3 linked regions of the Homo sapiens genome follow. The protein of the gene in region 1 interacts with the protein of each later gene in a pairwise test. Each region holds a gene or a part of one and is shown in the gene's direction. Other genes may lie near its edges. The genes, in order: KIAA1328, EEF2KMT and CYTH4.

Evidence for each region.
Region 2: the proteins of KIAA1328 (region 1) and EEF2KMT interact in binary tests that used the Homo sapiens proteins (3 or more experiments, as listed by UniProt).
Region 3: the proteins of KIAA1328 (region 1) and CYTH4 interact in binary tests that used the Homo sapiens proteins (3 or more experiments, as listed by UniProt).

What each region holds. Positions count from the first base shown.
Region 1 is NC_000018.10:37,215,077-37,225,310, forward strand, and holds part of KIAA1328 (protein hinderin), read left to right. Parts: intron 1-6,940; coding exon 6,941-7,151; 3' UTR 7,152-10,234. UniProt on the Homo sapiens protein: Competes with SMC1 for binding to SMC3. May affect the availability of SMC3 to engage in the formation of multimeric protein complexes.
Region 2 is NC_000016.10:5,087,796-5,098,029, reverse strand, and holds the start of EEF2KMT (protein-lysine N-methyltransferase EEF2KMT), read left to right. Parts: upstream 1-234; 5' UTR 235-290; coding exon 291-386; intron 387-676; exon of another isoform or gene 677-750; intron 751-2,515; coding exon 2,516-2,578; intron 2,579-4,465; coding exon 4,466-4,546; intron 4,547-6,134; coding exon 6,135-6,236; intron 6,237-7,464; coding exon 7,465-7,598; intron 7,599-7,680; coding exon 7,681-7,946; intron 7,947-8,773; coding exon 8,774-8,923; intron 8,924-10,234. UniProt on the Homo sapiens protein: Catalyzes the trimethylation of eukaryotic elongation factor 2 (EEF2) on 'Lys-525'.
Region 3 is NC_000022.11:37,291,071-37,301,304, forward strand, and holds part of CYTH4 (cytohesin-4), read left to right. Parts: intron 1-1,531; exon of another isoform or gene 1,532-1,550; coding exon 1,551-1,633; intron 1,634-3,589; coding exon 3,590-3,654; intron 3,655-4,928; coding exon 4,929-4,995; intron 4,996-6,493; coding exon 6,494-6,612; intron 6,613-8,155; coding exon 8,156-8,236; intron 8,237-9,836; coding exon 9,837-9,949; intron 9,950-10,234. UniProt on the Homo sapiens protein: Promotes guanine-nucleotide exchange on ARF1 and ARF5. Promotes the activation of ARF factors through replacement of GDP with GTP.

The sequences.
Region 1 (10,234 bases):
ACCATCATGTCATCTGCAAACCTGGACAATTTGACTTCCTCTTTTCCTAATTGAATACCCTTTATTTCTTTCTCTACCTGATTGCCCTGGCCAGAACTTCCAACACTATGTTGAATAGGAGTGGTGAGAGAGGGCATCCCTGTCTTGTGCCAGTTTTCAAAGGGAATGCTTCCAGTTTTTGCCCATTCAGTATGATATTGGCTGTGGGTTTGTCATAAATAGCTCTTATTATTTCAGGATACATTCCATCAGTACCTAGTTTATTGAGAGTTTTTAGTATGAAGGCTGTTGAATTTTGTTGAAGGCATTGTCTGCATCTATTGAGATAATCATGTGGTTTTTGTCTTTAGTTCTGTTTTGTGATGGATTACATTTATTGATTTGCGTATGTCGAACCAGCCTTGCATCCCAGGGATGAAGCCAACTTGATCGTGGTGGATAAGCTTTTTGATGCGCTGCTGGATTTGGTTTGCCAGTATTTTATTGCAGATTTTTGCATCGATGTTCATCAGGGATATTGGTCTAAAATTCTCTTTTTTTGTTGTGTCTCTGCCAGGCTTTGGTATCAGGATGATGCTGGCATCATAAAATGAGTTAGGGAGGATTCCCTCTTTTTCTATTGATTGGAATAGTTTCAGAAGGAATGGTACCAGCTCCTCTTTGTACCTCTGATAGAATTCGGCTGTGAATCCTTCTGGTCCTGGACTTTTTTTGGTTGGTAGGCTATTAATTATTGCCTCAATTTCTGAGCCTGTTATTGGTCTATTCAGGGATTCAACTTCTTCCTGGTTTAGTCTTGGGAGGGTGTATGTGTCGAGGAATTTATCCATTTCTTGTAGATTTTCTAGTGTATTTGCTTAGAAGTGTTTATAGTATTCTCTGATGGTAGTTTGTACTTCTGTGGAATCGGTGGTGATATCCCCTTTATCATTTTTTATCGCATCTCTTTGACTCTTCTCCCTTTTCTTCCTTATTAATCTTGCTATTGGTCTATCAATTTTGTTTCTTTTCAAAAAACCAGCTCCTGGATTCATTGATTTTTTGAAGGTTTTTTGTGTCTCTATCTCCTTCAGTTGTCCTCTGATCTTAGTTGTTTCTTGCTTTCTGCTAGGTTTTGAATTTGTTTGCTCTTGCTTTTCTAGTTCTTTTAATTGTGATGTTAGGGTGTTGATTTTAGATCTTTCCTGCTTTCTCTTGTGGGCAGTTAGTGCTATAAATTTCCCTCTACACACTGCTTTAAATATGTCCCAGATATTCTGGTACGTCATGTCTTTGTTCTCGTTGGTTTCAAAGAACATCTTTCTTTCTGCCTTCATTTTGTTATTTACTCAGTAGTCATTCAGGAGCAGGTTGTTCAGTTTCCATGTAGCTGTGCAGTTTTGAGTGAGTTTCTTAACCCTGAGTTTGAATTTGATTGCACCGTGGTTGTGATTTCTGCTCTTTTACATTTGCTGAGGAGTGCTTTACTTCTAACTATGTGGTCAGTTTTGGAATAAATGTGATGCGGTGCTGAGAAGAGTGTATATTCTGTTGATTTGGGGTGGAGAGTTATGTAGACATCTGTTAGGTCCGCTTGGTGCATAGCTGAGTTAAAGTCCTGGATATCCTTGTTAACCTGCTGTCTCGTTGATCTATCTAATATTGACAGTGGGGTGTTAAAATCTCCCATTATTATTTTGTGGGAGTCTATGTCTCCTTGTACTCTCTGAGGACTTGCTTTATGAATCTGGGTGCTCCTGTATTGGGTGCATATATATTTAGGATAGTTAGCTCTTCCTGTTGAATTGATCCCTTTACCATTCTTTGATTGCCTTCTTTGTCTCTTTTTTTTTTTTTTTTTGTCTTTGTTGGTTTAAAGTCTGTTTTATCAGAGACTAGGATTGCAACCCCTGCTTTTTTTTTGTTTTTTTTTTGTTTGTTTTTTTTTTGCTTTCCATTTGCTTGGTAGATCTTCCTCCATCCCTTTATTTTGAGCCTGTGTGTGTCTCTGCACGTGAGATGAGTCTCCTGAATACAGCACACTGATGGGTCTTGATTCTTTATCCAATTTGCCAGTCTGTGTCTTTTAATTGGGGCATTTAGCCCATTTACATTTAAGGTTAATATTGTTATGTGTGAATTCAATCCTGTCATTATGATGTTAGCTGGTTATTTTGCTCGTAGTTGATGCAGTTTCCTCCTAGCATCGATGGTCTTTACAATTTGGCATGTTTTTGCGGTGGCTGGTACCGGTTGTTCCTTTCCATGTTTAGTGCTTCCTTCAGGAGCTCTTGTAAGGCAGGCCTGGTGGTGACAAAATCTCTCAGCATTTGCTTATCTATAAAGGATTTTATTTTGCCTTTACTAATGAAGCTTAGTTTGGCTGGATATGAAATTCTGGGTTGAAAATTCTTTTCTTTAAGAATGTTGAATATTGGCCCCCACTCTCTTCTGGCTTGTAGAGTTTCTGCCGAGAGATCAGCTGTTAGTCCAATGGGCTTCCCTTTGTGGGTAACCTGACCTTTCTCTCTGGCTGCCCTTAACATTTTTTGCTTCATTTCAACCTTGGTGAATCTGACAATTATGTGTCTTGGGGTTGCTCTTCTCAAGGAGTATCTTTGTGGTGTTCTCTGTATTTCCTGAATTTGAATGTTGGCCTGCCTTGCTAGATTGGGGAAATTCACCTGCATAATATCCTGAAGAGTGTTTTCCAGCTTGGTTCCATTCTCCCTGTCACTTTCAGGTACACCAATCAAACGTAGATTTGGTCTTTTCACATAGTCTCATATTTCTTGGAGGCTTTGTTCGTTTCTTTTTACTCTTTTTTCTCTAAACTTCTTGCTTCATTTCATTTGTTATAGCCACAGGAGTTAGAGAAAATGCCACACTTTGAGACAAATTAAGAGTCCTTTATTTAAGCCGGCGGCCAAAGAGATGGCTAATGCTCAAAATTCTCTTGGCCCCGATGAAGGGGCTTAACTTTTATACCTAGGTTTAGGAAGGGGAGGGGGACTTAAATGCAATAACTCTACAGAAGTAAAAACATGCAAGAATCAAAAGAAGCAAATGGTTACAGAGAAATGAACAATTTAAAAGACAAATGGTTACAAAAAGAGCAAGGGTACCAGGTGCAAGGCTCTAAATCCTTCATTATAGTTAGATATAAATGCTATGCCAGACAGGAACTCAAGGCTTTGTGTTGTTATCTCTTTGAGCAAAACCCTGGGAACTTCATACATTGTTTGCTCCAGTATCTTACCAGTTAATTGGGCTCCTTTGAAATGCTGAGGATCTGCTTACACAGGTTAACTCCTTAAGGAAGGGGGTTGGGTAAGGAGCCCTTAATGTCTTGTAAATCAAGAGGTCAAATGGAGTTTGTCCGGCTTTCCCAGCCAGGGAGAGTGTATTCATATGGGAAACATGGCTGGCAATTAAGGAGACAAAAAAAGGAAAATTTAAAGTAGTGAGCTAGAGTAAAAAACAAGGTTAGGCGTTACACATTCATTTGATCTTCAGTCACTGATACCCTTTCTTCCACTCGATGGAATCAGCTTCTGAAGCTTATGCATGCGTCACGTAGTTCTCCTGCCATGGTTTTCAGCTCCATCAGGTCATTTAAGGTCTTCTCTACACTGTTTATTCTAGTTAGCCATTCGTCTAATCTTTTTTCAAGGTTTTTAGCTTCCTTGAGATGGGTTCATACATCCTCCTTTAGCTTGGAGAATTTTGTTATTTCCAACCTTCTGAAGCCTACTTCTGTCAACTTGTCAAAGTTATTCTCTGTCCAGCTTTGTTCCATTGCTGGCGAGGAGCTGTGATCCTTTGGAGAAGAGGCACTCTGGTTTTTAGAATTGTCAGCTTTTCTGCTCTGGTTTCTCCCCATCTTTGTGGTTTTATCTACCTTTGATCTCTGATGATGGTGACCTACAGATGGGGTTTTGGTGTTGATGTCCTTTTTGTTGATGTTGATGCTATTCCTTTCTGTTTGTTAGTTTTCCTTCTAACAGTCAGGTGTCTCAGCTGCAGGTCTGTTAGAGTTTGCTGGAGGTCCACTCCAGACCCTGTTTGCCTGGGTGTCACCAGCAGATGGCTGCAGAACCGCAAATATTGCAGAACTGCAATATTGCTGCCTGATCCTTCCTCTGGAAGCTTCATCTCAAGGGGCACCCAGCTGTATGAGGTGTCAGTCGGCCCCTACTGGGAGGTGTCTCCCAGTTAGGCTACACAGGGGTCAGGGACCCACTTGAGGCAGTCTGTCCGTTCTCAGAGGTCAAACACCATGCTGGGAAAACCACTGCTCTCTTCAGAGCTGTCAGGGATGTTTAAGTCTGCAGAAGTTCCTGCTGCCTTCTGTTCAGCTCTGCCCTTCCCCCAGAGGTGGAGTCTACAGAGGCAGGCAGGCCTCGTTGACCTGCGGTGGGCTCCACCCAGTTTGAGCCTCCTGGCTGCTTTGTTTACCTACTGAAGCCTCAGCAATGGCAGATGCCCCTACCCCTGCCAGGCTGCTGTCTCGCGGGTCGATCTCAGACTGCTGCACTAACAGTGAGCAAGCCTCCGTGGGCATGGGACCTACTGAGCCAGGTGTGGTTTATAATCTTCTGGTGTGCCATTTGCTAAGACTGTTGGAAAAGCGCAGTGTTTGGGTGGCAGTGTCCCTATTTTCCAGGTACTGCCTGTCATGGCTTCCCTTGGCTAGGAAAGGGAAGTCCCCCGACCCCTTGCGCTTCCTGGGTGAGGTGATGCCCCACCTTGCTTCGGCTTGCCCTCTGTGGGCTGCACCCACTGTCCATCCAGTCCCAATGAGATGAACCAGGTACCTCAGCTGGAAATGCAGAAATCACCCATCTTCTTTGTCGATCACACTGGGAGCTGCAGACTGGTGCTGTTCCTATTCAGCCATCTTGGAACTGTATCCCCCAATTTTTTCTAATTTTTAATTTTGAGGAGGATCTTTCTGTTGATGCAACTGACAGTGGAGCTGCTAAGAGTATTTTGTAGGCTGTGCCAACATTTGCATAGATTTCTAATAAAGTATTTCCAAATATGAATTTTAGTTTATATAGAGGTGATTATTCTTGGGGATCAGATTTTCTAAAAAGATTTAACTCTTCATACACATTAGTTTCATACATGTTGGAATTTAATTTTAAATACAAATCTCTATGATGTCATTTTAATGTTTTCTCTAGCATGTTCTGTAACATATAAAGATCATATAAGAAACCAAAAATCACTTAATGATTTGTCTATAATTCACAGTGCTTGTTTATGCTTTCTATAGCAGCATCTTCAGTTACAAAGAAAAATTAAATTTAAAAATTGTATTCCTCATTAATAATTGGTTCATTAGAAATTGCATATGAGAATAGTGGGTTTTTTCCTATCAAATGCAACAATCTTTAATTTTTATTTCCAAACCTGTGGATGTTCGCTTTCCAGTGTTGTAGCAGTTTTTAAAACCAGAGATTCTAAACTCTTTGAAGGCTTCTAATATATCTCTGATATGCTTCATTGTAATGTCCACGTGTATGTTTTTATTTTCTAATAATTTACTGGCATTTATACTTAATGCTAGCAGTTCCTATCCCAGTTCTCAGGCCAGAAAGATGACATTTTTGCCACAGGGATGGGCTTGGGAAACAGACAACCCAGCCTCTCACCACTGCTGCTTCTGCCATTGTCACCACCATTAATTTGGAGCTAGGTTCTGGCCCCAGCTATCCCCTTAGGGCCCTATGTGGTACTCCAAACTGTTTTTGTTTGTTTGGTTGGTTGGTTGGTTGGTTTTTTGTTTGTTTGTTTGCTCTATTGCCCAGGCTGGAGTGCAGTGGCACGATCTCAGCTCACTGCAGCCTCCACTTTCCAGGTTCAAGCGATTCTCCTGCCTCAGCCTCCTGAGTAGCTGGGGCTACAGGCACATGCCACCATGCCCGCCTAATTTTTGTATTTTTAGTAGAGACAGAGTTTCACCATGTTGTCCAGGCTGGTCTTGAACTCCTGACCTCAAGTGATCCACCCACCTCGGCCTCCCAAAGTGCTGGGATTACAGGCATGAACCACCTCACCCGGCCCCCAGAATGTTTTTTTACCTCTAAGCTGCTCTGCACTTACCCTTTCTGAAAAGAATGCTGGACACAAGGCAGTCTTTCTTTGGAGGGATGTCTTTATAGATTTAGAATCTTTTCCCAAACTTCTAGAAAAAGTGGAAGGGGGTTAACAGGAAGGAACTAACATTTATTCAGTGCCTATTATGTATTCATTTATATCAATGAATTCATTTAATCCTAACTGGAGTTTTGCTAGCCTCTTACACATGAAAAGACTGAACTGAGACACTGAATAACTTCCCCAATATTACACAGCTTGCAAATGGTAGAACAGAGATTTGAACCAAGCGTGTCTGTCTGTGAAGATTTCGACAGACAGCTTTAGTGTCCTGGATGAGAGTGCTGGAGACAAACCACCTGGGTTCAATTCTAGACTCTGCTGTGTAATTGCTTTCTGTTAGATGAGTTACTTCCCTGAGCTTTAATTTCCGCATGTTTATAATGGAGATGAGAGTAGTATAGTACCTACTTCCTAGGGTTCATTAGAGGATTATAGGAAGGTTAAATATTTGTAGTGTTAGGAACAGTGCCTGACAGTAAGCCTGCAGTAAATGTCACTGTTAATATCATTACTGTTATCATGATTACTCTTCCCACTCTACAATCTCTCTTCATAAGTTATAAAGGAATGTTAGGGGTCAGCAAAAGAGAAGAGCTTATGTACAGGCAGCAGGGCCTAGGTTCTTCAAGTCCTTCTGGTGTTTACCTTCACAAAAATTCCCTTAAGCATCATCTTATGCATGATGTGATCTGTAATCTAATTCTTGCCCTGGACAGCCCATTTCTGCTGGGCTTCTTGAATTCTCATTTTCTAATAATCTGATCCTTTCCTGTCTGGGTTATATGTCTTACAGGTATGAGACATCTTTGTTGGATTTGGTTCAGTCTCTGAGCCCAAACTCTGCGCCCAAACCTCAGCGCTATCCCTCCAGAGAAGCTGGGGCCTGGAATCATGGTACTTTCCGACTCAGTCCTCTAAAATCAACCCGGAAGAAGATGGGGATGCACAGAACCCCTGAAGAGTTGGAGGAGAATCAGATTCTGGAAGATATATTTTTCATTTGACATATTGCAAAATTTTCTTAGGAAATTTGTGGGTTTCCTCACATACTGATCTAGGATTTTAAATTATTTCATTGCAAAGTAATTGTGTCTCTCCTTTCACGGGGACTTGTCTCACTAGCATCCTGTTACGTATTGAATATAGAAATCATTCTAACAACCCAGGTTATTTTCAATCAGACCAGGCATTCGATAACACACTAAGGGGGTAGGAATGGAAGATGGTATCTTTTATATGCTAAACAGATTAGAAAATTAACATAGGATACTTTCTGCGTGGTGGAAACCATTGCATATTCAGCCTCATTTCAAGAGTGTTTCCTTCTCAAACTTCTGCTAGAAAATGCTGACTCACTTTTATATACAAGAAAAACCTTTCCACTGAAAAATCCCTCTGATTTAAAAGTAACCCCTTTGAAACATAAGCAGTTTCAGAAAGGCAGACTCTCTCATCTTTCTCATCCTGTTCTCTCACTACTACATTTCTGTAAGTGGTCCTTTAATTCTGAAGTTGGAGTTGGTGCCCCTGCCATCACAAACAACACGAGAGCCAATTGTGAGTCAGTCTCAGTAGCCATCAGCCTGGCAGCTGCCCATCCCATAACCAAAGAGCTCAATGGGCTGGAGGGTGAGACCCAGCCAATCCTTGGGAGCAAGCAGCACTAAATCACATCAGGGAGTGATTAGTCCTGGGGAAATTCAGTGGAGGCACAAGCCTGAAGCACTCTTCTACCAATGTTTGGGTGACCACCCCTCCAATATCCCAGAATGAATAAGAACAATCCCTAGGTATTTTTATTTACCCAAGTGTTCAGCTTATTCACCCCACCCCCCCACCCCCCATCACACGTGCTCCTGTGAACTTTCCATGGTTATGTCTACGGAAAATGCCACTAGAGAGAGAGTGATGCAAGCTGCTGCAAAGCTGATGGGCTTCCTCTGGCCCTCCCTTTTCCTCCACGAGGATTAAAGGATACAAGCTGACCAGGCCTCACAGGTGCTCTGCTCGTGGCCCCAAAGAACCATCTCTACTTGCCAGAGTATGTTCCACCACCCAAGCAGGGTCTCCCTACTTTTTCTCACTGGCCTCGTTTTGACCCAGAGAAAGCCTATGGAAGTTATGCAGTGCAGACCTCATCCTGTCTGCTGTCTTTTCTCCCACAGAGCTCTTGAGATGGGTCCTTCAGCTTGCAGTGGTCCCTAGTAGCCTCTCAAGCTAATGGGGATGATGATCCTGGTTTAGCCAGAGTTCAAAACTCTCCAGTCATTGAAAGCAAGGGGAGGGTGTGTTCCCAGATGTGTATTACTTGGGAATTTTATTTGATCTGGAGGGTGTGGCTTTTTTTCTCTCCTTTTTACCAACCCCAACTAAACTGGGAGTAAGACTTAGTCAGTGTTGGTAGACAAAGTCATACCACCCAGGGCAGCCTGCATGCAGCGAGTCTGCGTGGCTTCCCTGAATTACTCTTTTAATTAAAACTAGATTATTTCAATCTAGAAAAGCCTTGTTGAGCAGCCTCCTTATCCAGATAGATCCAAAGCTCATGTCTCTTCAGGCTGAGACTGGCGCTGTCACCTCCACCCAGCCTTCTTTCACTTGGGGTTTTTTATTCTTTGGAGTAGAAAAGAATGGAGCCCACTAATATTATATTTTTCTTCTGAAATAAATATAAAGTCAAGACTAACTAGTTATAATCATTCCCTTAAAAAGTTGGAAAATCATTACAGATTAAAATTTCTTTATAAAGTTCACCTCTGAGAGTAACCAAATCGGTTTCATCCCATATCAAAAAGCCTTTGGAGTGTGGAGCTTTCTGTGGTATGGCAGAAATGGGTGGATGGCAAACTAAGAGCCCTCAGCCATTTTTTCAGTTAAAGTTAGGTTGCCAGAACTTTCTTTTCCTTGCCCCCTGTGTCATGACTAGCTTAAGTGTACTTGACTCCCATAGACTACTCCCATGCCCACAGTCACCCATTCCAGACTCCAGTGTCCTTAAAACTCTGGAGTGAGAGGATGCCAGAGGATCAAGAAAAGGATCACAGTTTCTTGAAGAAGCTTGTTTGCCTTTAGAAGAATCGTAAACAGAGTCTAAACTAAAGGCTTTTTGGGGGTCACAGCCACAGAGTGGAGTTTTATTGCTTCTTTGCCTCTCCATGAATGGCCAATTTGGAAAAGCAGAGATGGGCTTTCAGCAGAATATCAACCAATACATTTTTCACATGCAAAACTCATCACCAGTTGCCTTTTTCTAACTTAATGGACATTTTGTTGGTGTTGGTGCAAGGGCAATAGGATGTAAATTTGTATATAATCTAATGTCTTCATTATTAATTGAATAGTACATGTTAACATTTTAATCTATTTAAATTTACTTTGAAATATATACATACATATGAATGAAAGGTTGTTACAGAGCCTCAAAGCTGTTGCAGACTATCCCAAGAGAAAGGATCTGGCACAAAGGAATCTGCCTTTCCTCCGTCTCAAGTCTCCCACCCTTGACTGGTTGGGATTTGCTCGTCCAGCCTCTAGACACTTCCCAAAGCAAGACTGGACACATGCCGAGGGCGTTGCGGATAGTGCCTCACCATTGCCCACCCTGCTGCCCAACTCCTGTGAGAGAAAAACCAATCAATGTTTACAAAATGGAAAAGGACACAGCATGTCCTTTGAACTCCCTAAGTAAGGCCCACAGTTCTTGATGCAGAGAACCAAAGTGAATCATAGAAAAGCTTTTGCTAACAGTCCGCTTTCCAGGAGGCAAACTTGTGTTTATCCAAACCTGATCCCCATGATGGGGACTTTTCTAGAGCACCCCAAATGTCATGGGGAGAGAGGGACTCTTTCTGCTCCCTCAGAGCTACTCTTCACTTGTCCCTGCTTCCGGCACCAAGTTCATAATAGAGATCTTCTGGCCAGAGAATCAGGGGAGAGGAGAGGCCTGATGGGGCAGAGCTGGACGAAGTCTGCTAAGAGAGATGGAGGCTGTGGCGGACTCCTTCCAACTCACGATTTATCCTCAGCTCAGAGTGTATTTTGAATATGAGCAAATGTTTATGTACGTATGAGATTTCAAGTTAATAAA
Region 2 (10,234 bases), on another chromosome or scaffold:
ATCCTGGCCCCGCCCCAGGACCCGCCAACCTGGACTCTACCCAGGACCTGCCCCCTACCCAGGACCTGCCCCAACGACGCTTATCCTGGCCCCACCCCAGGCCCCGCCCTCATAACAATCATCCTGGCCCCGCCCTAGAGTCCGCCCCCACGACGTTCCTCCTGACCCCCGGGGGACCCCCGGGCCCCGCCCCCTCTCTGCCCCCGCTCACTGCCCTGGGCCCGCCCCCTCTTCAGTCCAGGCCGGGCTTCCGCCCGGTCTGCCGGCAACGCTGCGGCCCCGCCCACGTCATGGCGCCCGAGGAGAACGCGGGGACCGAACTCTTGCTGCAGAGTTTCGAGCGCCGCTTCCTGGCGGCACGCACACTGCGCTCCTTCCCCTGGCAGGTGGGCGGCGGGGCGAGCGGAGAGGCCCGCGGGGCTCGCGGGAGTCCAGGGGCAGACGGGACGGGTCTCCGTGCTGAAGCCCCTGGCGCTCCCGCCACGTGAGTTCCTGGGCTCCCGCCGGTCAGGGCCGCGCGACCCGGTCCCCGTCCCTGGGGCCTGGCCAGAGTCGCTCGCACCCCTCCTGCCCCGCGAGCTGGCGGGGGAAGCTGGGGGCGTCTCCACAGCCTTGGGGGGCAGACGCGCGCTCGGTGTGGGGTACAGTTCACGATCATTTTCACGACTTTTTAAAGGCAGTAATCGTTCTGGTCACTGGGACACAGCTGCCCTCGCCCATTCTAAAAAGTCAGCGCCGTCAGGACCGCAGGTAACCACGTCCTCCTGAGCGCGGTGACCGGGTCACAGGCTGTCCCTCGTGCCTCAGTATTCTCATCTGTATGTTGAGCACTGCACAGAATCGGCTCATGCTCTGAGGCTGTCACGCCTGTGATGGAAGAGACAGAGAAGGGGGTGGCCTCTCCTCGCCCTGGGGACCTGCCATTCTCAGCACAGGCCCATGGCAGGCAGCAGCCTCCCTTCTGCCAGCAGAGGGGCTTAATGCACCCGGCCTCATTTGTAATTCATGTGCGGTGAGCTCACTGGGATGAGTGAGTTTGGATATATATTCCTCCCTGGGTCTGCCCCATTTTATGGGGTGTTGCTTAATCATTTGCGTTATTCCATTGACATAAAATATTTGCACTCAGAGATCATTTCTGGTCAAGAGAAATTCGTGCATTTTTAACCCAAAATAGAAACCTTCATAAAAGCATCATAGGTCTCCATTCAGTATTGACTGTAATTGTTCACATGCCCACGCTGAATGCTAACTTGGGCTCACCCTCAACACCCACGAGGTGGGTACTATTATTACCACTCACATTTGACCAGAGGGATTGTTTGATTAGGGTGCAGTAGTTGAGAGTTCAGACCCAGGAGACAGCCTGTCTGCTTCGAATCCTGGCCCAGCCCCTGGCCCTGTGTGACCTTGGGCAAGTGACTGCATCTCTCTGTGCTGTTTTCTTATTAATAAAATGGGGGATATAATGATACCTACCTCTTAGGGTTGTTGTCAGGGTTGAGTACAAAAGCCTGTGGATCAGTGCCTGGCTCATGGTAAATACATGTTGGTGTTAGCTAGTGTTTTTATTCAGTCTCAAAATGTTTAATAAATGCCTTCTGTGAGCCAGGCACCATGGATCAGCAGTACCCATGACAGATGAGGCTCTGCTTGCATGGGAGAGCCAGAGAATAAACAAATAAATAAACAAGAAAAGACCAGATGACAGTGGCTTTAAAGCCAATAAAACAGGGAAATAGTGAATGCGGGAACTGGGAAGAAGAGTCACCAAAGTCAGGGAATCAGGGAAGCCTTCCCCAAAGAGGTGGCATTTGAACTGGGGCCTGAGTGGTGAAGCAGCCAGCCATGGGAAGGGCTTGGGGAACAGGATATGCAAAGGCCCTGTGGTGGAAACAAGCCAGCTGTGGTTGAGGAACAACACCAAGGCAGCCAGTGTGGCTGGAGTGGAGTGAGCAGGGTGGGCCAGGGGTGAGGGAGAACAGGCCAGAGAGAGGGATTAGGACCAGGTCTTGTAGGGCCTTTTATGGCATGGAGGGAGCTCTGAAGCAATGAAGTGCCTTGCCCTGTGTCACATACCAGCCGAGACAGTCTGCCTAACTCGGGAGCCAAGGCTCGCTGCTGGGCTTGAGGCCCCTGTAAGAGGATAATGTAACTCAGGCTGGTATGGGCACATTCTGCATCTCCACTTAGATGGCAAGCCCATCAAACCTTGGTGCCATGGCTGCCCTGGTAATTCCTGGCTGAGCAGTGCAACCAGGGAGCTGGCCCATGACCCGGGTGGCCGCTAAGTAGCCAGGACTAATGTGGCCAAAAGTCAGCCTTCTTCCTGTGACTCATCCAGGTGCACCCTGCGACATCTGAATGTCAGGCTTTCAGCCGCTGTGGCTTCCACTTCCAACTGGCTCCACGTCCCCAGGGAGGGATCACACAGCGCTTTGCCAACACATTCTATTGCGTGTTTAATGTTCCTGTGAATGCGCCCTTGAGATTTCTCTCTTTCCCCTCCACACAGAGCTTAGAAGCAAAGTTAAGAGACTCATCAGATTCTGAGCTGCTGCGGGATATTTTGCACAAGGTAAGAATCCCAGAGTCCCTGGGACTCATGACCCTGCCTCCTGAATCTCTCCAGAAGACCTGAGAGAAGAACTGCAGGTGTGCTTGTACCCTTTAAAAACACCCCTGTTCAAAAAACAAAACCATTGAGTCAGCACTGCAGGTGGGTGTCAGCACCTCTGACAGCTCCAGCGCTTTCGTTTTCTATTTAAGACTTAGACAAAGACTTCAGAATATACAAAAACCTGCAATGAGAGGGGGGAATCTAGGGAATGTTTTTTAAACCATCCACAGCAAAAACAGAGATGACAGGTGCAAAACAGCTTCTAGCATTTGGTTGATGTTCAGAGACTTTCTTTTTTGCTTTCATGAGGCCTGTCCTGCCCACTCCTGTCTCCTCTAGACCTAAATGGGCCCTTGCTTTGCCCAGGGTGGGGTTTGGACTCAAGTGCATCTGCCTGCAGGTGAGAGGCAGGATCACCACCCGGCCCAGCCACAGCCTGACCTTGGCCTTGAGGGCCAAGTGCAGATCACCCTGCATCCTGGGTCTTCACGTTCGAAGGGCCATGAGCCCTTCTGAAAAGACCAAGCAATAGACTCCCTCGCAGAAAGAAGTGCACCAGAAGAATACATTTTCCATACAAACTCAGGAGGCAGATATCCTCCACCCCCACCCACCCAGCCCATCCTAGGAGCCCCGGTGAAGAATTCCTGTGCTAGAGGTGAACCAAGATTATCCATGTGGAAAAGATACAGCCACAGCAGGGAAAACTTTCGGGGCAATACCAGGGCTTCGAGCATGGAGATACCTGAAGTTATCTCGCACCCTGCTCTGAGTTTCACCCTGAGCCTCACTCTCGTAGGTGGTGAAGCATGAAATGTAGGGAGAGCTGCTTTAAAACCCAGCACAAGGCTGGGTGCACTGGCTCACACCTGTAATCCCAGGACTTTGGGAGGCTGAGGTGGACAGATCACCTAAGGTCAGGAGTTCCAGACCAGCCTAGCCAACATGGCAAAAACCCATCTCTACTAAAAATACAAAAATTAGCTGGGCGTGGTGGTACATGCCTATAGTCCCAGCTACTCAGGAGGCTGAGGCAGGAGAATCGCTTGAACCCAGGAGGCAGAGGCTGCAGTGAGCCAAGATCGGGCCACTGCACTCCAGCCTGGGCAACAGGGCGAGACTCTGTGTCAGAATAAATGAAAAACCAGCACCAGCCTGAAGAGCCTGTGTATTGCGTGGGGTACTTTGCTGCCCTTGGGCAGAATCTGCATCCCTCCCAGCCAGCAGGCACTGTGGACCGTCTCCTCCCTCTCCCTCCAGGCTCCTGTTTTCCCGCCGTCCCCACTCCTGCTGCACCAGTCCCTCTGCCCTCCTTTCCAAGTGCCAGGCTGTGGCCACCTCAGAGCTTGCACCAGCTGTTCCCACTGCCTAGAACTTGCTCATCCTGCATTTGGCTTCTCTGGGCTTTAGCTGGAGTGTCACCCGGAGCGTCCCGTCCCCTCCATCCTGTCCCCAGGGACACACACTCCAAGAGAGCAGTTGCCGAGTGGGCCTTCCCGCCTCTTCCATAGAGCCAGACCGTTGGCGACTGTCCTTACTGCAAACCCTGGTTCACACTGGCTCCCCTGGGAGGGAGGCGGTTTGGGCCCACATGCCCTGTGTTCCTGCTCAGAATGGGCGTTAGAAATGCTGCCATAGCCTGTGCCACTGCAGTGGAAGCATTTTTAGGAAACAGCTTATATCTTAAGACAAACTTCAGATGCATGGGGCCAAAACGCTGTGTCCATCTACATCTTTGCTGAGGGATCGGGTAGCCTGGAGTTTGCCCTCTGCTGTGTTGGCTTGAAGCTCATAGGAGACTTAAGACGGGCTCTCGAGCAACCAACGTTCTGTCCTTTGCCGTAGACTGTGAAGCATCCTGTGTGTGTGAAGCACCCGCCGTCCGTCAAATATGCCCGGTGCTTTCTCTCAGAACTCATCAAAAAGGTCAGTTATGGGCAGTGTCCGCCCAGTAGCCGGACAGCATAGCCACCTGCGTGCTGGAGCCCCCGTCCTTCCCAGGCCCTGGGCCTGCTTTGCAAACCCCAGCATGGCAGGGGCCTCCCCAGGCAACTGGCTGCAGCCACATGTGACCCATGGGAGACAGTGCAGGGCGGGAAGAAGGGGAGGCCAGCATCTCTCCCTCACTCTGCCTCCTGGGGTTTCCACGGCAGCTGCTCCTCTGGGGCCCCAGCTCCTAGCATATGGATTCTCATTCCTACCAGGCTGGCCCAGCCCACAGCACTGGAACCCTCACCCGCACCCTCTGTCCTGCCCGCTGAAGGGTTTGGAGTTTCCTGCTCTTGTCCGTCTCTGGGTTGCCCCACAGGCCCCTGTTGGAAGATTTAGCTCTTGCCATACCTTCGGAACTAGTTCCTCTGGTGAATTCTCTGCATTAATCCTGCTGGAATGAGCTCTTTCCTGACTGATAAAGGATGAATTTTATTTTTTACTTATTTATTTATTTTTTTGAGACAGAGTCTCACTGTGTTGCCCAGGCTGGATTACCGTGACACAATCTCGGCTCCCTGAAACCTCTGCCTCCTGGGTTCAAGCAACTGTCATGCCAGCCTCCTAAGAAGCTGGGACTACAGGCACACGCCACCATGCCTGGCTAATTTTTTATTTTTAATAGAGACAGAGTTTCACCATGTTGGCCAGGCTGGTCTCGAACTCCTGACCTCAGGTGATCCGCCTGCCTCGGCCTCCCAAAGTGCTGGGATTACAGGCATGAGCCACCGCACCTGGCCTAGGATGGATTTTAAAGATGCGCCCGAACATGCAGGGTTTGACATGAGGATGTCGAGAGGCCTCCTCAGTAGGCAGTAGCAGACCTGCTGAGTGAAAGAGCCACACTTTTAGCAAATAAACAATCCCCTGCTTCTCCAATACCTGCTTTCTCCCTAGTCCTCCCCAGAAGCATGCATCTGTGGTCACCAGCAGGTCTGCCCTGTGCCACCAGGAGAGGGCAGCAGTCACCCAGTGTACTCTGCTGCTGCCCTGTGAATCATAGGACGGGGCCAGCTGTGGAGAAGCGGCCTGCTGACAGCCACAGCCTGCAGCATGGGCCGCCCTCACACTTCTGCCTGGGCTCACTTAAAAGCACCTTTTGTTTTCCTCCTCTCTGTGTTTGATCCAAACACGGCTCTCTATCATGGTCACCTGGCAACTCTCACGGAATCCTTGTCTCCTGCCCTAGACTACACCTAACCCTACCCTCCCAACACCTCTGGTTCAAGGCCCTCCCATCCAGGTTTCCCTACCAAGTGAATTTTTTTTTTTAGAGACAAGGTCTCTGTTGCCCAGGCTGTCCTCGAACTCCTGGGCTCAAGCAGTCCTCCCATGTCAGCCTCTAGAGTAGCTGGGACTATTCGGCACACACCACCAAGCCCAACGAAGTGAATATTTTATATGGCAGCTGGCCGGTATTATACCATTCCATCGCAAATCTCCCCTCCAAACTTGGTGAAAATCATCTGGCCATTTTTACAGATTAGAACGAAAGCAAACAAGCTCTCACTCTGTCTGCCCCCAGCACGAGGCTGTCCACACAGAGCCTTTGGACGAGCTGTATGAAGCGCTGGCGGAGACCCTGATGGCCAAGGAGTCCACCCAGGGCCACCGGAGCTATTTGCTGGTATGAGAAGGGCACCCTCCTCCCCCTCACAGCCCAGATACCCTTCCTGCACAGACAAAGTGAAAACGTGGGTGTGGGTTCAAATCCTGACTCACCCATTCTACAGTCTTAGACATGAGGTCCGTCAACCTTCTTTAGCCTCAGTTTCCCTGTCTGTAAATCAGGCACTTCAACAACAACAGCATGTCTCGTGGAGTTGTTGGGCACTTATCCAATAGGTGACACACACTACCTGCTTCACAAGGACCTGGTGCCCAGTCCTCAAAGAATACTTGACAGGGCTGGGCGTGGTGGCTCACGCCTGTAATCCCAGCGCTTTGGGAGGCCGAAGTGGTTGCATCTGAGGTCAGGAGTTCGAGACCAACCTGGCCAATATGGTGAAACCCTGTCTCTACTAAAAATACAAAAATCAGGCCGGGCGTGGTGGCTCATGCCTGTAATCCCAGCATTTTGGGAGGCTGAGGCGGGGGGATCACCTGAGGTCAGGAGTTTGAGACCAGCCTGGCCAACATGGTGAAACTCCATCTTTACTAAAAATACAAAAATTAGCGGGGTGTGGTAGTGGGCACCTGTAATCCCAGCTACTAGGGAGGCTGAGGCAGGAGAATCTCTTCAACCCAGGAGGTGGAGGTTGTAGTGAGCCAAGATCATGCTATTGCACTCCAGCCTGGGCAACGAGAGCAAATCTCTGTCTCAAAAAAAAGTACAAAAAGTAGCCGGACATGGTGGCACACGCCTGTATTCGCAGCTACCTGGGCGGCTGAGGCAGGAGAATTGCTTGAACCCAGGAGGCAGAGGTTGCAGTGAGCCAAGATCGTGCCACTGACTCCAGCCTGGGTGACAGAGCTCAAAAAAAAATAAGATAAAACATAGATACAGAAAACCACAAAGGAAAAACAGCATATTGAATCATCACAAGGCAGCCACCCCTTCATAGCCACACCTGTCCCCTGGCCACCACTGACATGTGTTCCATCGCCAGAATTCCGTTGTCTCAGGAAGGTTCGATGAATGGAATCCTGTGTGGCCTGAGATGAGTGTCTTTCACACCGCGTGACACCCTTGAGGCCCGTGAAAGCTGTTGGCATGCCAACAGTTAGCTGCTTCTCATTGCTGAGTGGCGATTGGTCCTGTCATGGTTTATTCAGCCATGTGGTGGGGCTACTTGTCTTCTAAGCCACTTGCCTTCTGATCGCTGGACTGACTCTCTCGCCTTCTCTTGGTGCAGCCCTCGGGAGGCTCGGTCACACTCTCCGAGAGCACGGCCATCATCTCCTACGGTACCACAGGCCTGGTCACATGGGACGCCGCCCTCTACCTTGCAGAATGGGCCATCGAGAACCCGGCAGTCTTCACTAACAGGTGACCTCGGGGCGCAGGGCAGGGCACCGAGGCAGGCTTACCCTGGTGCAGTCGCAGACACGGTCCCCTTTCCTCCCGCCAGGACTGTCCTAGAGCTTGGCAGTGGTGCTGGCCTCACAGGCCTGGCCATCTGCAAGATGTGCCGCCCCCGGGCATACATCTTCAGCGACTGTCACAGCCGGGTCCTTGAGCAGCTCCGAGGGAATGTCCTTCTCAATGGCCTCTCATTAGAGGCAGACATCACTGCCAAGTTAGACAGCCCCAGGGTGACAGTGGCCCAGCTGGACTGGGACGTCGCGACGGTCCATCAGCTCTCTGCCTTCCAGCCAGATGTTGTCATTGCAGCAGGTAATGCCCAGCCCCGGGCACCCTGTGCAGGTGGTGTCCTTGCAGCTCTACCCAGCTCTTGGCTCTGGGAAAAGGGAACAATGGACGCTGTCGGGCATGGACATGATGGGGCTTCCAGAAGAGTTACTCTGGGCCTCCAGGGTGACATCACAGGACAGGGGTGCCTCTTAAGGTGACCTTCAACCCACAGCCCTCTTTTTGGAGACAGGCATACTCCCGTTCCAGTCGTTACCACATGGCTCTGTCCCAGAGCCATGCCCTGTGTCCTTCAGAGACCACAGGAGGAAAACAACCACTTCTGGGACGAAGACAGGGCCCTTGAGAGAAGGTGGTGTTTGGCTGGGCCACCGAAAACCCCTCACCCCTGCCAGCACACTCAGTCCCCTCTCTGGTGGAACAGAGCTCTGCCTGTGGTCCTAGGTCCCAGCCCTGAAACCCACAGGTCCAGCGGTGGCCAGGGACACAAGCCCACCCCTGCAAGCCAGCAGACAAATCAGCAGATGCCTGAAACATGAAGTTCATGGCAGGGTCAGGCTTTGTGTCATTCAAAGCCCTCTAGATAGGCCAAGAACCAGAGCTGGTTTTTTAAGGAACACCAGTGAGTCTGGAGATTTTTTTCTTTTGCTTCGGTCTTTTGCAGCTTTCTCTACTAAGGGTTCTCCTTTTTCACCCAAGTAATTGCCTTTCCATCTAATGGCCCAAATGGTCAAATGGCATCTACTAGTCTCATATGACCGCTGCCTCTCTGGCCTCGCCCTGCTGCTGACGTCAGCATGACCTGGACCTGTCCACTGGTCCCTTTCAGTAACCTGAAGCTTTCACCATAGATGTGCTGTATTGCCCAGAAGCCATCATGTCGCTGGTCGGGGTCCTGCGGAGGCTGGCTGCCTGCCGGGAGCACCAGCGGGCTCCTGAGGTCTACGTGGCCTTTACCGTCCGCAACCCAGAGACGTGCCAGCTGTTCACCACCGAGCTAGGTGAGCCTCCACGCCCACCCGGGCCTGCATGGTCCCTGAGCTGTCCCTGCAGGACGCCAGTGGAAGTGAAAGAACTGGGTGCCGGGGAAAAGCTAGGTTGCCCCACACTCCCACACCATGGGGGGAACTCAGGCAGAGGCCAGTGAGCAGGGTGGGCTTGGGGCGTGGGGGGCTTGCGGCAGGAGGAGGGCAGCTCAGCACAGGGAGGGAGGGTCTGAGCCCAGCAGCCCTACTGTGTGCTTCAGAGCAGGGTTCCCTAAGCCCTTGGGCCTCGGTTTCCTCATCTATAAAATGGAGGTGGCGGGAGGGGCAGTCGGGGTCAGGGCTGGACACAGCTGTGGCCTGCAGGACGCTGGAGCACAGGATGTACAGGCGGATCCACCACGCCACTGTCCTGAGCACCCAGTCGGTGGAAGACGAGCAGGGTGACTGTAGAGAAGGGGAACTGGCCCCATAGTGGGCCAGCAACTGTCCTCAGACCTGACATTTGTCAGCCCCCAGCAACTGTGAGGGTGTGCTGTCACTGTCCCATCTCACCAACAAAGACACTAGGACACACGGAGGCCAAGAGACCCCCGAGCTCCCGCAGACTGCACCCCAGCCACCTGGCTCTCACGCCTCCACACTACACCCAAGCCCCCCAGTGCCACCAGCCTTTGCCCCAGCTCCCCCTGAGCACAGCCCCTCCTGGCAGCCATGTGCACAGATGCACATGCAGCAGCCTCTGCCTGCACACAGAGACACAGACAACCCAGTGCCTGTCCACGTGGGGCAGCCCGTTAACTACAGAGCCAACAAACAAGCCAGCACACGAAGACGTACTGGGTTCCACGACAGAGTCCCCCCACAACCTCGCACAGGAGGCTGGCCGGGCGCAGGGCTCAGGCCTGTCATCCCAGCACTTTAGGAGGCTAAGGCAAGAGGACTACTTGACCCCAGGTGTTCAAGACCAACCTGGGCCACATAGTGGGACCCCATCTTCACAAAACATACAGAAGCTAGCCAGATGTGGTTGCACACGCCTGTAGTCCCAGCTACTCAGGAGGCTGAGGTGGGAGGATGGCTTGAGCCCAGGAGATGGAGGCTGCAGTGAGCCCTGATCTCACCACTGCACTCCAGCCTGGGCAACAGAGCAAGACCCTGTCTCAAAAAAGCAAAGAAATAAAAAATAAAAAAAAAAAAAGGAAGTCTTTCTTCAGATACTTACGTGAAAAAAAACCTGCAATATATTTTAAGTGAAAAAAACAGTGCCAAGCAGCACACATAGTATAAGCCCCCACCCACCTTTTTTTTTTTTTTTTTTTTTGAGAC
Region 3 (10,234 bases), on another chromosome or scaffold:
AGCTGCCCTGTGAGGCAAGGGTTATGGTTCACATTTCACAGATGAGGATGCTGTATTAGGTATATCTCAGATTTAGCTGCTTAAAGAGACTCAGAATAACAGCAACCGAAACATTCTCAAAACTGATTTATTTCTTATTGAAAAGTCCAAATGGATAGGTGGGCCAGGTGAACATGATGAGTCTTCTCCACACCGCTGCCTGGGGACCTGGGCTCCATCTAGCCTGGTGCCCTGCATCTCCGCATGGGGCTTTAATCTCAACAGCCACAATGCCTGCTTAATCATGAGAAGGAGAAGTAGGGAAAGGGAGCGCTCAACATTCCCTCTGTGTTCTTTTGGAGGAAATGATGTCTATCCTTGTAAAACCTTTAAGAAATGCGGCCAGGCACTTCCCGACGCTGGAACTTGAAGGTCAGCGAGGATTTGGGCAGGCAGACAGGAGAAGGCATCCCAGAGTACAGGAGCGGCCTGGGCAAACATGGGGAAGTGGGACTGAGTCCTGGATGGCTCTGGAGCAGGAAGGAGCTGGCAGGCTGGACTGGCAGGCTCTTTTTGGGAATGGCAGGGAATAAGTCTGGCTGCCAAGGCTGGAGAGGTTGTGGAGGCCCCAGGCCCAGGATGAAGACTTTCTCTCTGAGTAATAGGGAGGCCATATTACTCAGAGAAGGAGAGTGTTGTGGATGAAACAGAAGCCACCATGAAGCATGAAGATAGGACAGCTGACCTAGTTGTGGGCATCATCACAGCACCTTGCATAGAATGCCGCACACACAAATCTTATTTCATTTAATTCATTTCCAAGTGGAGATGAAAGAGCACAGGCTTTGGAGTCAGCCCAATTCAAGGTCCCATCCTGGCTCAGTGACCTTTTCCCTGTGGGTTGAGTCACCTCACCTCTCTGAGCCCCAGTATCCAGGGGCAGGGACTATAAAATATCCCCCAAATCCAGCCTCCCCATTTTACACAGTAAGGACATCAGGACCACCCTGCTACAGGCTCATTTCCCAGCCTCCCTTGCAGCTAGGTGTGGCCACGTGACTACATTCTGGCCAATGGGATGTGAGGAAAATGGTATACCACTTCTTGGTTGTTCAAATAAATAAGTGAATAAATAATGAGCCCATGAGCCAGTGGAGGAGGAGATTCAAGTTCCGGGGAAGGAATGCGTGCCTTCAGCGAGTGTTTAACTGAGTGCTTATGACATGTCAGACTCTTTCTAGGTGCTGGGGACACAGTAGTGAGCAAAAGAGTAGAACAACTGAACTCTCATGGAGCCGAGAGTCTAGCGGGAGGGACAGAAAAGATGCAAGGAAACAGGATCCTTTTGGGGGTGTCTATCCAGGGGGGTGGGAGAAACAGGAAGCAGGGCAGGAGAGGAGGGAGCAGGGGCTGCTTTAGACAGGGCAGTCAGGGGAGGCTTCCTGGAGGAGGTGGGCCTCTGTGAATAGGGCAAGTCCTGGGTTTCCGGAGGGAAGGGGGCCCTGCAGAAGTGAGGGCAAGTGGGTGTGGCTGGAGCCAAGTGATGGGGAAGGCCGGTTGTCTCTCTGTAGAGCCCGCGGAGCTGAGCAGCGGGGAGACGGAAGAGTTACAGAGGATCAAGTGGCACCGAAAGCAGCTCCTGGAGGACATCCAGGTGAGTGCACACTCGTGTCCACACACGTGTCCATGCCCACACTCCTGCACGCTTGTACGCACCCCACCAGCTCCTGACCCAGCCTGGTCAACAGACAGTGTGGCCAACTCTGGCTCATATCAGCCTCGGCCCCAGCCCCAGGAGCAGGGAGAACAACAAGACTGCAGACACCCCGAGACCCAGGGAGAACTGGGAGAGCCGGGGAGGGAGGCAGCGATCCAATTAGGCGCCCACCGTGTGCCGATCCTCATCCTGGCCTTTACTTGCTTTGTCACAGGGCAGGCTCTGACCCCTGTGGTGAAGCTTCAGCCAGGTCTCACCCCTGCAGAGTGTAGACCACCTGGTCAAGATAACTCCCAGTATGTGCCCTGCACTTACCACTTCACCAATCAGACTCAGACGTCAGCTCATCTGGGTCAGCAGCTTCTGAGACAGGCTGGGTTCTGTTCCTGGAACGTGCCTTGCTCAGCACTGCCCCTGGGCCTTTGCACTCGCAGTCCCCTCTGCCTGGGCTGCAGTGGCTGTGCCCACCCCCACTCCCATGCACATAAACTTAGGATTTCAGTGAGGAAATGAAGGCACAAAATTATTCACTCAGCTGCTGTTTCATTGAGCACCTACTATATGCCAGGATTTCTCTACCTTGCTCTGATGGTGTTCTGCATAGTCATTCCAATTACCCTATGACCACCCATGATCCCAGCCCCACCAGACTGTGCCCTCCATGAACACAGAGCCGAGGTCTGTCTTGCCCACCACTGCATCCCCAGCCCGCTGGGTGCAGCATTAATAGGTGCTCAGTTAATACTTGCAAATGAATCCCCATTGTATTTGTGGGGCAACCACTCAGTGGCTCTGCCAAGATGGCATGAACAGGAGCTGACACGGCTCAGACACAGGCTCCCAAGTCCCATGCTGGCCCTGAGTCTCAGGACAAGTCCCTGGAACCAGCCCCTCACCAGCACCCTGCAGATCCTGGGGAGAAAGGGGCTGGGTGCCTAATGGGGGTGCCGGCCAGAGGCTCATGCTGGTGTCCTTCAGGGGGTGCTGGTGGTTGGCAGGGGGAGGTGTTAGGGGGTCCCCTCTGCCACTGGGTGCCTCCTGCAGGGTCAAGATGAAATGGGCTTGGGGTCGAGTTGGGGGAAGCACAGGTTTGGAGTCAGACTGCGGGCGTGTCGTGTCATCTCTCTACGCCTCAGTGTCCTCTTCTGTAAAGTCCAGGGGAATTGCAAAGTCCCTGGAAAGAGGGCCTAGGCTGCCTGTGCGTGGTGTCCCCGTAGTACCTGGCAGGCACATAGCGGGCACTTAGTCAAGGGTGAGCAACATAGTAAATGGAGGAAAGCCAGAGAGAAGCTGAGGAAGCAGTAGGGAGCCATGGGAGGGGTTTGAGCAGGGGAAGGGCAGGCTCCATGCAGTGCTCCAGAAAGACACCAGCCGGGAGAGGCAGGCAGGGTGGAGGCGGGCAGGGTGGAGGTGGGCTGGGGGAGGTGGGCAGGGTGGAGGCGGGCGGGGGGTGCAGGCAGGGTGGAGGTGGGCAGGGTGGAGGCGGGCAGGGTGGAGGTGGGCTGGGGGAGGTGGGCAGTGGGGAGGCCGGCTTGTCGGGTAGGCTCGGCTAGAGTGCAGGAGACTTCATGGCTGCAGAGAGGAGAGATGGGAAGGTTGGAAAAAGGATGGGCAAGGGATGGGGGCTTGGGGAATCCCACTCCCCAAGACAAGTGGAGGCATGGGTGCAGACAGAGGTGATAGTTTAGCATGCGACTTAGAAATTATGAGACATCCAGGGAGGGGACCTGTCCATGGAGGGTCCCTCAGACTGGGGACTCAGGACAGAGGTCAGGGAGAGGGGCCAGGTTTGAGAGTCGTGCCCAGGGGTAGGAGTGGTCCTTGTGGTCTCAAACCCCCGGGGTTCTGGCCTCCACCCCTGACTCTCCCTGTCCTGCCCCTGCCACCCCACAGAAGCTGAAGGATGAGATTGCAGATGTGTTTGCCCAAATCGACTGCTTCGAGAGTGCGGAGGAGAGGTGAGGGGCTTGGGTGGGGACCCCCAGAAACTGCCATGGTTGCTTCCCAAGGATGTCATACACCTTGAATGAGCAGGGGCCACTCCCAGCCCCCTGGACCTGGTGAAATCAGGGATTGGCCAGGGAGAAGGAGGCAGCAACGAGACCGGAACAGGGTGGCCCCGGCCCCATCCCGGGTCTGGTCCCTGCTCCCAGGCTGACCCTCTCTTGAGAGACACTGCGTCCTCCCCTCCCCCAACCCAAAGTCTCTCCTGACCCACTGTGGTCCAGCCCTGACCGATCACTGGCCACATCCACCCTGGGATGGGCGGGGAGAAGGGAAGCTCAGCCCCAAGGGCAAGGACAAGGAAGCCCAGGGCCCCAGGAGGACAGGAGCCTGGCCCTACCCCACCCCACTCACCACTAACCCCGGGCCAGCCACGCCCACCGCCTCTGTGGAAAACTCCCACTATTTTGTGATCTGGGACAGATCCTGTCCCTCTCTGGGTCTCAGTTTCCCCATCTGTGCAACAAGAAGGTTGGTTGCTACACAGTCTCCTAAGGCCCCAGTGCACTGACTCTGACACACGATGTCCTGGCAATTTCCCATCCTGCGCCCGCCACTCCTTAGGTCTCCACCTGTCCAGCCTCCTCCCCTCCCCCACCACACACATGCACACACACACACGCATGCACACACACACAAGCATGCACACACACACAAGCATGCACACACACACAAGCATGCACACACACGAGTGGCCGTTTCTCCAGCTCCCCTGTTCCAGCCACAACAATGACAACATAACACACCTACGCCTCACTGTTTTAGGTGCTTTAACCTCTCAACAATGCTGGGAGGCAGGTGGTGGTATCACCTCCATTTTATAGATGAGGAACCTGAGGCCCAGAGAGAGGAAGTGACTCGCCCAAAGCAGCCCGGCTCAGATTCGCATCCAGGAGCCTGGCTCCAGCACCTGCGTGCTCAGCCCTCGCCCCCTCCCCCGGTTTCTTGCACAGGGCCCCTCCACCTTCTCCCACACGGCAGCTCCGGGTTCCTGCAAGCTGCTAAATGCCCGTGCTGGGCCCATCAGAGAAGTCAGCTGCAGAGCTCTGGGAGGAGCCAGGCCTTGCACTGCTCTCTCCCGCCCAGGTGGTTCCCATGCAGGACCCGGAGGCCACACTTGGAGGGCCCTAGAGGGGTATGGGCTCCTGCTGAGGCAAGGGTCCTTGGGGAGTGGAGAGGGTAATTCAGGGTCCTGGGGCAGCCCAAGCTGACGTCCTCATGTCCACAGCCGGATGGCCCAGAAGGAGAAGGAGCTGTGTATTGGGCGCAAGAAGTTCAACATGGACCCCGCCAAGGTAGGTGGCTGTGGAGGGCCCGGGCCACAGGGTGTGGGGGCTGCATGGGAGCACCTGCCTGGTGTCCTCTCGCTCCCCTCGGCTGACACGACCCCTTTCCAGAGGAGGAAGCTGTGCCCAGCAGAGCTGAGCATCTTGTCCAGTGCCCCATGGCCAGCTGTGGCTGGGCGCCCTGTCTACTCCCAGGCATACACGCCTTGGGGCAGGAGGAGCCAGGAGCATGGAGGAGGCCACGGTGTCCATGCACTTGGCCTAGTCCCTTCCCCACTCTGGGCCTCCATTTCCTTCTCCATGAATGTGGCTTGGGACAGTGGAGCTCTTGGATCTGGGGCTTAGGCTCCAGAAGCATCTTCCAGCCCTGGGCTCAGGGAGGGCCAGTCCTGCGGTCCCACCACCCACCCCTCTGCTAGTAGGAGCAGCAGCTCAGGGCTGGGTTACCTCGATCCCCCACACCACTCCCAAGCCCCTGGCCTCACCCCACCAGGTGGCAGCTGGGCTTCCATCCTGAAAGGACGGAGACAGAAGGAAACCGCAGGCAGACACACCGAGGTGGGGTCAGGTGGCCAGCAGAGAGCACCAAGCTGGGGTCCCTGGAAATTTACCGCTCTGGCTTAGAAGGCTCCCTGTCCCCATCACAGGCCCAAAGTGTTATAACCATTCACCTCTCATGGCTACAGACCCTTGGACTCCTGCTCCTACCCACAGAGACCCCCGCAGGCTCACACTCTCACCCCACCCAGCACCCAGGGGTGTCCTCTGCATCCTCTGCCTGTCACTGGGCCCTCATGGCCTGTGCCCAACTTCCAGCAGTGGAACACAGAGGAATCTTCACGGAGAGCCAGAGACCAACCCCTCCAACTCCTAAAACTAGGATGACAAACTCTGAGTGCCTTGGTGGTGAGGAGAGGTGCTTGTGATATTGTCAAATCCGAAAAACAGATTTAAATGTGACAGGCATGGTCTGAGCCCATTTTCACATAGAAAGGGAAGGAAGGTCACCACGATGGAAGCTGTCTGCCTCCGAGCGGTAGGGCCCGGGCAATTTCCTCCCCTTTGGATTGAGCTGGTTTTTCTAACTTTTATACAATAGACATAGATTACTTGTGTGAAAGAATGAAACGCTATTTTTAAATAATATGAGTTTTAGGGGAACAAAAGAAATGGCTGAATCATTGAATCTCAGAATCACAAATTCCTAGAGTCACTGAAGCATATAATCAAAGAATGTCAGACTGAGGGGGACCCTGGGGAGTACCTGGCATGAACCTGGTTCATGGCAGGAAAGCTGACTTTCTTTGCATGCCTCCAGTGATGGGGAACTCATCACCTCCCAAAGGCAGCTCCTATGAAAGAGGGGTCAAAACTTCCCAGAACAGACTGTGCCAACACCAGAATGCCAGGCTCCAGGATTCTGGCCATGGAAGCTCCTTCCTCCCTTCCCCCTCCCAGGCCTGCTTCCATGCAGCAGCTGCTCACGGCTTCTGTGTACCCCCTCCAGGGTATCCAGTATTTCATTGAGCACAAGCTGCTGACCCCTGACGTCCAGGACATTGCACGGTTCCTGTATAAAGGCGAGGGCCTCAACAAGACAGCCATTGGTACCTACCTGGGGGAGAGGTAAGAACGAGTGGAGCCTTAGCGAGGCAGGAAATGAAGGTGTGCAGGTGTGTACAGGTGTGTGGATGTGCAGGTGAGAGGATGAATTATGTTAGCAAAGTCATCACTCCTAGTGCTTGAGGGGCTCACGGATCATCCCCTCCAGATTCTGAGTCAAAGCCTGACTGCCTTCATTCATTTAGTCATTTATTCAACAAATAAATGTTGCTCAGGGTCTACTGTGTTCCAGGCACCATCCTAAGCCCTGGGTGTACACCAGTGAATAAGACAGACAAAACTCTTGTCCTCAGGAAGTCCATGCTAGTGGGAGAGACAGGTCTCAATAGTTGTAAAATATGTTAGAGAATGATAAGCTCTGTGGAATACAAATCGAGCAGGGAAGGGAAGTCAGAAATGCTGGGGACCGGCCAGGCTCGGGGCTCATGCCTGTAATCCCAGCACTTTGGGAGGCCGAGGCAGGCAGATCGCGAGGTCAGGAGTTCCAGATCAGCCTAGCCAACGTGGTGAAACCCCGTCTCTACTAAAAATACAAAAATTAGCCGGATGTGGTGGCAGGTGCCTGTAGTCCCAGTTACTCAGGAGGCTGAAGCAGGGGAATCGCTTGAGCCTGGGAGTCGGAGGTTGTAGTGAGCCAAGATCACGCCATTGCACTCCAGCCTGGGCAACAGATTGAGAACGAGACTCCGTCTCAAAAAAAAAAAGAAAAGAAAAGAAAACAAAGAAAGAAAGACATGCTGGGGACCATAGGTTGGGGGCTGTGATTTAGAATAGCGTGGACAGGAAGGGTCTCATGGAGAAGGTGACATTTGACCAAAACGTAAAAGAGGTGAGGGCATGAGCAGTACAGACATCTGGGGGAGGAGCGGTCCAGGAGTAGCAAGTAAAAAGGCCCTGGGGTCAGAAACAGGCTCAAGAATCTAGACTGGACGGGAGGAGAGAGGAAGGATATTGTGGGCGAGGAGGTGGGGATCTGTGGGAGCGCTCTGGGCAAAGGACTGGTCTGAGGGGTGGGCGAGTGGATAGGGGTGAAGCTGGACCAGAGAGTCAACAGCCCTCTCCCCAGCTCCCAAGGACACCCCTCCCTCCCGCGGTGAGCAGGGGATGCAGACGGTGAGAAGGGCACCTTCCTGCTTCAGGAGCTGGGGAGAGGGAGGAGATGGGGGAGGTCAGCTTCTCTCCCTTGTACAGATGAGGAAGCTGGGGCTGGGAAGGTCAAGTGGCTTCCGCGAGGTCACCAGGTGGGAAGTTACAGGAAATGAGGAAGGCCTGGACTGAGGGCAAGGCCGCTCCAAAGCCAGGGCTCCCCTCCCAGGCCAGACCAGCGCTGGTGAGCCGTGAAGGTGTGTGTTCCTGCATGGGAGGACAAGGGTGTGCCCTCAGGGTGTGATATGGGTGGGACAGATGTGAACACACCAGATGGCAGCTGGACCCCAGAAGGACAGATGTCTCTGTCCTCTCCCTCCCCCACCTCAACCCCCTCCAGGAGGTGGGTGCCAGCAAGTATCCAAGTGTGTCCCACCCTCCCTTCCGCCTCCTCCCCCAGGGATCCCATCAACCTGCAGGTCCTCCAGGCCTTCGTGGACTGCCACGAGTTCGCCAACCTCAACCTCGTCCAGGCCCTCAGGTGAGTAGTCCTGGGGCAGGGTCCCGGCCCTCAAGGGTGGCACAGCCCCAGTGGCTGGGGGTGTCGCGATCCACATAGCTGACAGCACAAACAAAGGGTTGGGAGCAAAGAAGAGGAGGCAAGGAACAAGAATGACTTCATGATAGTACTGCCTCACAGAGCTGAGCTGGACCGCCTGGGAAAGGGCCTAGTTCCTTGCAAATAGCAAATACTGCCTTCTTAGTTAGAATTCTATCATGCCCATATTTAATCATTCTAATCATTATTACTTTATTATGGTCATTCTCCTACTTTTTGGATTAGTGCATGTTTTATTTATTTTATAAGACTGCTTAGCATGTATTCCAATTATTATGACTTATTAGCTTCTAATTAGGGTACTGTTTTTGGTACTCATTTTTACAACTGCAGAGGCAGTCCAATTATCAGTTTGAAGCACAAACTCTGGAGCCAGACTATACAGTTCAAATCCCAGCTCTGCTGCTCACCCCCGTGTGACCTTAAGCAAGCCATACACATGCACAAAATACAAAAATTAGCCGGGCGTGGTGGCGGGCGCCTGTAATCCCAGCTACTCGGGAGGCTGAGGCAGGAGAATCACCTGGACCTGGGAGGTGGAGGTTGTAGTGAGACAAGATCACACCACTGCACTCCAGCCTGGGCAACAGAGTGAGGCTCTGTCTCACAAAAAAATAAATAAACCTTCCTGTGCCCCAGTTTCCTCATCCGTAGAATGGGGATAATAATAGTACCAACTTCACAGGGTTGTGAAGACTAAATGGGAAAGTGTTTAAAACTGGTCCACAGTGAGTGCTTAGTAAGTCTTGATGCTGCTTGAAAACTCAGATTCCGAGAAGGAGCATCTGATCTGGGCTTTGGAGGGTGAGTAGGAGTTCACAATACAGAGAAGGAAGAAGCCACCACCATCCAGTGTTCTCTAACTCCCAGCTCTTTAAGGGAGAGGGGTAGGTGACTTGGGAGTCTCCCATATTCATTCTTTCATTCATTCATTCACATATTCATTCATTCATTCACTTATTTACTGAGCCTTTGCTAGGTGCCCAGGACTGTGTGAAGCCCAGGAGGAGAAGTGAGAGATACAGGCCCAGTTCTCACCTTCAGAGAACTTAGCTTGAAGCTGTCGAAACCACCAACTTCCAGAGCTAGAGGGAAGTCGAGGTTCCAAGAAAGGGAGCCCTAGCAAGGCAAAACCCCTGCCCCACCTCTTCCCCAACTAGGTCCCACAGCCAGATCTCAGGGCCCAAAGGCCAGGTGCGGGGAGCCACAGACCCCGGGGCAGGCAGAGGCCGTCCCCCTTCCCAGCTGAGGCAGACTGGGCTGCAGTCAGTGCTGGGATTCAGACCTGCAGAGCGGGGCGTGTGCTTAGTTCCGTATTCTGCAAGAAAAGGCATTTCTTGGCTACCTCCCGCGTGCTTGGGGCTCCCTGGTGCCCATCCCACTTCCCCGTCAGCCCAGATGACAGTTGCAGATTCCCCCATTTACAGGATACAGAGACTAAACCTGGGAGAGGCAGGGCAGCTTGTCTGGGGCCCGCGAGGGCCCACCCACTCCACTGCCCGTGGCCCCGTTTCTCCCCCAGGCAGTTCCTGTGGAGCTTCCGGCTGCCGGGCGAGGCCCAGAAGATAGACCGGATGATGGAGGCCTTTGCCACTCGATACTGCCTCTGCAACCCAGGCGTCTTCCAGTCCACAGGTGCCAGGAGGGGAGTGGGACCCAGGGCTCCGGGACCCCTTCAGCATTGCCAGGCATAGATTTCACAGACCCCCTCAGGTTTCCCCCAGGTACCCAGACCCTGGCAGCCCAGACCCCTTCATGAGCCCTCACTGAGCACTGACTTCATTGCTGCTGGGTGCTTGTCTGACAGAGCTGCCTTGAGACACAGTTCTTAGGAGAGCAGTCAGGAGACGATGGCACAGGATGCTAAGGCTAAGGCAGCAGCACCCCTTTCTGAGGGCAGGAGTAAGGGAATCAGCATGT